Linked DNA regions of Homo sapiens: region 2 is linked to region 1. Evidence: fine-mapped expression QTL. A gene starts in region 1. The other region holds a variant in brackets. All regions are shown on one strand. Distances are between the middles of the regions. Region 1 holds the start of NETO2 (neuropilin and tolloid like 2). Region 2 overlaps NETO2 (neuropilin and tolloid like 2).

Region 1 (3,020 bases):
GGGTTTCACCATGTCGGCCAGGCTGGTCTTAAACCTCTGACCTCGGGTGACCCGCCTGCCTCAGCCTCCCAAAGTTCTGGGATTACATGCGTGAGCCACCTTTTCATATCCGTGGGAAAAAGTTCTTAAATGTTTTATTTCCTAATTGGTTCTCGTGTGCGATCTTAACTGTAGTAGGTGGTTACCTTTAGGAACCCAAACTTACCCATCTTTTATGCCCCCATTCACAGCACATGGCAAAGGGTGAAACACCTCGATATTAATTGGTGTTAAGTATGTTTTTCCTTTGTAAATCTCATGAATTATTTATGCTTTTGTACCTTTCTTGAAGGAATACAAAGTGAGAGAGAAGAGCTTAACACCTGAAAAATGTTTCAGTTGCCTGACATTGTCTTTAGCTACAATTGGTTAGACAAACGTTTACAGAGTTCCTACTACACGCAGAGACAGGCATAAATATTCTATTATGGTAAGGCCTTGATCACGGTTGTTATCTCCAGCACCAATCATTGTCTTCTGCACATAATTAACACCCAATACGTATGTGTGGAGTGAAAAAAATGAATGCAGTCGGCCTGCCTGCAAGCAGCTGATATTTTAATGGTGTGAGGGTGAGGGAGATATAAAGGATGAACAAATAAATAAATGAGGAAGGTCATATCAGTGTGATAACCGCTGTGGAGAAAATAAAGCAGGATCATGAATACCACCAACAGCCAGGCAGTTGTTGGCAGACCTGGAGACTCCCATCAGCTGGCGAAGCTGCCCAGCGTAGTGGTTAGCTGCTAGGAGGGCAGCCCCGGGGGAGGTGCACAGCCCTGCCGCTCATTCGCTACGCGGCTCTGGACGAAGGGCTTCACCTCTCTGGCCTCGACTTTCCAATCCCCTAAAACCTACTTCATGAGGGGGAGTCTGAGGAGTTGGTACTAAAGTGCCTGTCAACCTGGCGGGCGCTAGGGAAACGCCGGCAGCGCCGCGGGTCGGGAACTCACCGGCGCGAAGGGCACGGAGAGCCTCGGGCTCCCTCTGCCGATGTCCGCGCTTCCCTGCCCAGGGTCGAGCAAGGCTGAGCTGGGCAAAGTTTTGACCTTGAATGGAGGTCTGGGGGACTAGGGACCGGCGCCCCTCTCTGTCTGCTAGGGCTGGCGGAGACCCGGCAGGCCGGCGAGGGTGCGGGGCCGAGGTGGGCGGCGCTTCCCGGGCGCCTCCGTCAGACGGGAGGCATCGAGGGCTCGGCCAGCTGCCCCGGGCGCCCTGCGCGGCGGCTGGGCACGGGCCGGTCACTGCCCCGGCGCCGGCCTCTCGGACGAGGCCGCCGCGCAGCCACGGCGAGAGGCACCCTCACTACCCCCGCGCCCAGCCGGCTCCCAGCCCTAACGGCAGCCGGCGGGGAGCGACGCCGTCCCACGGCGCGAGGCCGCGGCGGGCGCGCGAGGCGCGGCGCGGGGCGGGGCGGGGCGGGCACATGCGCACAGGCGGCGCAGCCGGCACGCGGCGCTCGCGCTCCCTCCTTAAATGAGCCTGGGCGCCCCGCGCCCGCCACTTCAGTGGATCCCGCGCCGGGGCCGCGGGCGGAGCTGCCTGCCGGTCCCGCGCCGCGCGTCCGCACTCCTCGGCCCTCGGGCGGTCGATGGGACGGGGCGCCGCGGAGCAGGAGGCGGCGCCCGTCGGGGTGCTCGGGCCGCGCGGGAGCCCACTGTGGGGCTCGGGCATGGCGGGCCGCAGGACCTGAGCTCTCCTCAGGGGAGCGGGGAGGCAGCTGCTGGCCGGCGATGGGGACGGAGTGGGGCCGTCGCCGCCGCGCCGAGCCGTGAGCGCCGAGCCACCGCCGCCGCTACCTCAGCCCTTCGCGAAGCGCCGGGCAGCTCGGGAACATGGCCCTGGAGCGGCTCTGCTCGGTCCTCAAAGGTAAGGACCGGGGCTGGGGCCACGGACGGCGCCCCCTGCGGGCCGAGGCTGGCGCGCCGCCCTGCCCGCGCCTCTGCGTCCCTTACCCGCGCCCGGGACCCGACGCGCCTCTTTGTCTGGCGGGGCTCGCGGCTACTCGGAGCGGACCGCGGGGCGCGAGCCCTGCCCGGCTCCGCCGGCTCTCCGGGCGCGCCGCTTCCGACCCCTGCGAGTCCGGCCGACGTTCGCGGGGCGCGTGTGGGAAGAGGGATCGGGTCGGGAAGGCGGCCAGGAGGCCCCTGGGCCCAGCAGGGCCCTCCGGGCTGCGCCCTCGCGCCGCTTCCGTAGAATTCCGCGCATCCCTTTGCAAAGTTGTGAGATTCCTGTCGTGGAGCGGAGGCCGCTCTTTCTCCAGATGTGATGGCAAAAAGTAATTCCACGAGAACAATAAAAGCCGCGGCCGTGACGTCGTGCAGTGGTTTTCGAATAGCCCCGCGGCGCCTGCACCTCGCGGCGGGGAACGGGGCCTGCTGGGCCAGCCGGGTCCCACCTGCTGCGGCCACGGAGGCTGCGGCACCACTGCGGGCTCCGGGGGCGGCGCGCGGGCGCCGCGGACCCGGCTTGTCCCGGCCCCCGGGGAGCGCTGCTGCTCGGGTGCTTCCCGGGACGCGGCGCTCCTCGCGCTCCGCCAGAGGTCTCAGAATTCCCCGCCGCTGGTGTTCGGTTCTTACTAATTTGTTGTACTGGGAATTAAAACAGTTGGCTTGTCCAGAGCACAGAGCTCTAAAACCTACTCCACCGGCTTTGCATTTCCCAGGAGGTGGTAATTTAGATGAAAATTTATATACATAGATAATTAGGATTGGGATACAAAGTTGCTCCTGAAACTCGGACTGAATAAATCGTCTTTTCAATTTCCAGAGGGAAAACAGCACCACCACTCAGTAAAGGACTTCCCTTTTTCCCCCTGCTGATTTAAATTGAAAGCTGACGTGTTTGTAATGTCGTAACATGTTCTTTTTTTAAAAATTTCGAGGGTACGGCTGAGGCATTATTAACGGTGTTATGTATAACTCAGCACTGTATCTTAATATTTGTAGAGTGACTTTTTTCCTGCTCCCTAACAGCACTTT
Region 2 (2,760 bases), 30 kb after region 1:
AACTGAGACCCTGTCTCAAGAAAAAAAAAAATCAGTTGAATTTTTATATACTAGCAATGAAAACTGTAGTTCAAAATTAAGAAAACAGTACCATTTAAAATATTACTCCACCAAAAAAAACTGTGTAGTATCTGTTAACTGAAAACTTAAAAGACCATAATGAAAATATTCAGAGATGACCTAAGTAAATATACTGTGTCAATGTATTGATAGGCCCAGTAGTGCTAAAATGTCAGTTCTTATGAAAATGATCTACACAGATGAATACAATTTCAATCAAAATCACAGCTATATTTTTTGTAAAGATTGACAAACTGATTCTAGAATGTAATGGAAAAGCAAGGGATTACAGAAGCCAAAATTATTCTGAAAAAGAACAAACATGGAAGACTCATGACCTGATTTCAAGACTTAATGTGAAGCTTCAGTAACCAAGACTGTGGTACTGACAAAGGACAGACACACAGATCAATGGAACAAGATAGTCCAGAGATTAGATTTCTGCAAATATGATTTGTTAATTTTTTTGACATTCAAAGGAAATTGAGTGGAGAAAGGATAGTCTAACAGATGGTGCTGGAACAATTGAACCTCCATATTCAAAGAAAAAAAAAATGAACCCTCACCTGTTGAGTGTAGGTGTTGCCTCACCTACATCCAACACTGTATTTAAAAATTAACTCAAAATAAATCATGGACATAGATGTAAAATTATAAAACATTTAGAGGAGAATATATGAAAAGAATCTTACTGGGTTAGACAAAGAGTTCTTAGATGCAACACCGAAAGAGTATCCATAAAAGAAAAATTCAGGCTGGGCGCGGTGGCTCACATCTGTAATCCCAGCACTTTGGGAGGCTGAGGCGGGCGGATCTCGAGGTCGGGAAATCGAGGCCATCCTGGCTAACACGGTAAAACCCCGTCTCTACTAAAAATACAAAAAATTAGTTGGGCATGGTGGCGGGGGCCTGTAGTCCCAGCTACTCAGGAGGCTGAGGCAGGAGACTGGCATGAACCCGGGAGGCGGAGCTTGCAGTGAGCCGAGATCATGCCACTGCACTCCAGCCTGGGCAACAGAGCGAGACTCCATCTCAAAAAAAAAAAAAAAAAAAAAAAAAAAAAGAAATTTATAAATTGGACTAATGAAAAAGCTTTTCTCTGTGAAAGACACTGTTGAGTGAGAAAAAAAAAAAAAAGCCACTGACTGGGAGAAAAAAAATCACCTATGAAAAGATTTCTTTCATCCAGAACTCAAAACTCAACAATAAGAACAAAACCCAATTATGAAACAGATTTCAACAGATACTTCACCACAGAAGATTTAATCATTACAAAAATGCAAATTAAAACCACA[A/G]TGAGATGGCACTATTCTCCATTAGAATAACTGTAATTTAGAAAAATCACTAAGTGCTGGGAACTATGTAGAGCAGCTGAAACTCTGATACAGTCCTGGTAGGAGTGCAAAATGATAGAGCCGCTCTGGGAAACAGGTTGGTGGTTTCCTATAAAGTAACTGTGTGACTCAGCCGTCTCTTCTGGATGGGTACCCGGGAGAAATGAAAGCTTATGTTTATGGAAAAAAACCTATAAGTAAATGTTCATAACAACTTTATCTGTAATAACCAAAAACTAGAAATGTTTCAAGTGTTCTTTAGCTTTTAAAAGAATAGGCCAGGTGCGATGGTTCACGCCTATAATCCCAGCACTTTGGGAGGCTGAGGTGGGGGGATCACTTGAGGTCAGGAGTTCAAGAGTAGCTTGACCAACATGGTGAAACCCTGTCTCTACTGAAAATACAAAAAATTAGCCGGGCCTGGTGGCAGGTGCCTGTAATCCCAGCTACTTGGGAGGCTGAGGCAGGAGAATTGCTTGAATCCTTGAGGCGGAGGTTGCAGTGAGCCAAGATTGCACTACTGCACTCCAGCCTGGGCGACAAGAGCAAAAACTCCATCTCAAAAAAAAAAAAAAAAAAAAAAGAATAAACTGTGGTACATCCATATAGTAACATCTATTCAACAATAAAAAGGGATAAACTACAGCTACATGCAGTAACCCCAAATGCATCATGCTAAATAAAATGAGCTAGACTCAAAGGATACATGCTGTGTGATTTCATTTATATGAAATTCTGGAAAAAGTGAACTGTAGGACAAAGAACAGATCATTGCTTACCAGGGATGAAGACTGGAGATGGATTTTGACTGCACAGTGACAGCACAAGAGAAGTTGAGTGGGTTGTGGAACTGTTCTTGAAGTGTCAGCAAGGACTGAGTAGTGGATTGAGTAGAGCAAGCAGACTCAAAGAATTTGCTTTAGAAGTATAAATTGTCTCGTTAGAATTCAACTGTAAAGAGAAAAATGTATATAAATTGGTACAACCACTTTGGAGAGCTATTTCGGATGTGCTCTGGTAAAGCTGAAAATGGTCACATGCTACTACACAAGTATACTTCTAGATGTATACCCAAATGAAATCGTCATACCTGTGCATAAAGAGAAGACAACAATGTTTACAGCAGTATTAGCTAATTATAAAAGTAGAAGCAAGCTAAATGCCCAATAGGAGAATGGATACATAGTGATTTATTTCTATAATTGGTATGAGGTTTTAAAATATATGGAACAATACAACATATTTTTATAGATATGTAAGTATGAAAATATTAAGTGTGCTTTAAGTGAAATTAAACAATATTTATTAGATCTCATTCTTCATTGAAATATTCCTTGAAAAGATAATTCCATATTCACAAATTTTT

What was found. PIP is the estimated chance that this variant, and not a neighbour inherited with it, causes the effect. A credible set is the group of variants that fine-mapping cannot tell apart.
Region 2: its variant is the best candidate, but not a certain one, in a credible set for the expression of NETO2 in whole blood (TOPMed, PIP 0.51).

The regions. Positions count from the first base shown.
Region 1 is chr16:47,142,467-47,145,486 of GRCh38, reverse strand. It overlaps NETO2 (neuropilin and tolloid like 2), which reads left to right and starts at 1,542. Exons shown (of 9, transcript NM_018092.5): 1 at 1,542-1,908. The coding sequence starts at 1,875. ITFG1-AS1 (ITFG1 antisense RNA 1) reads right to left here and starts at 1,419. Exons shown (of 4, transcript NR_110904.1): 1 at 993-1,419. RefSeq lists silencers at 1,012-1,341, 1,402-2,241, 2,412-2,561.
Region 2 is chr16:47,112,803-47,115,562 of GRCh38, reverse strand. The region is part of intron 6 of NETO2 (neuropilin and tolloid like 2); the gene reads left to right. Among named protein-coding and RNA genes, the nearest start is that of NETO2, 30 kb to the left of the region's middle. The variant A/G (reference allele first, on the strand shown) is at 1,356.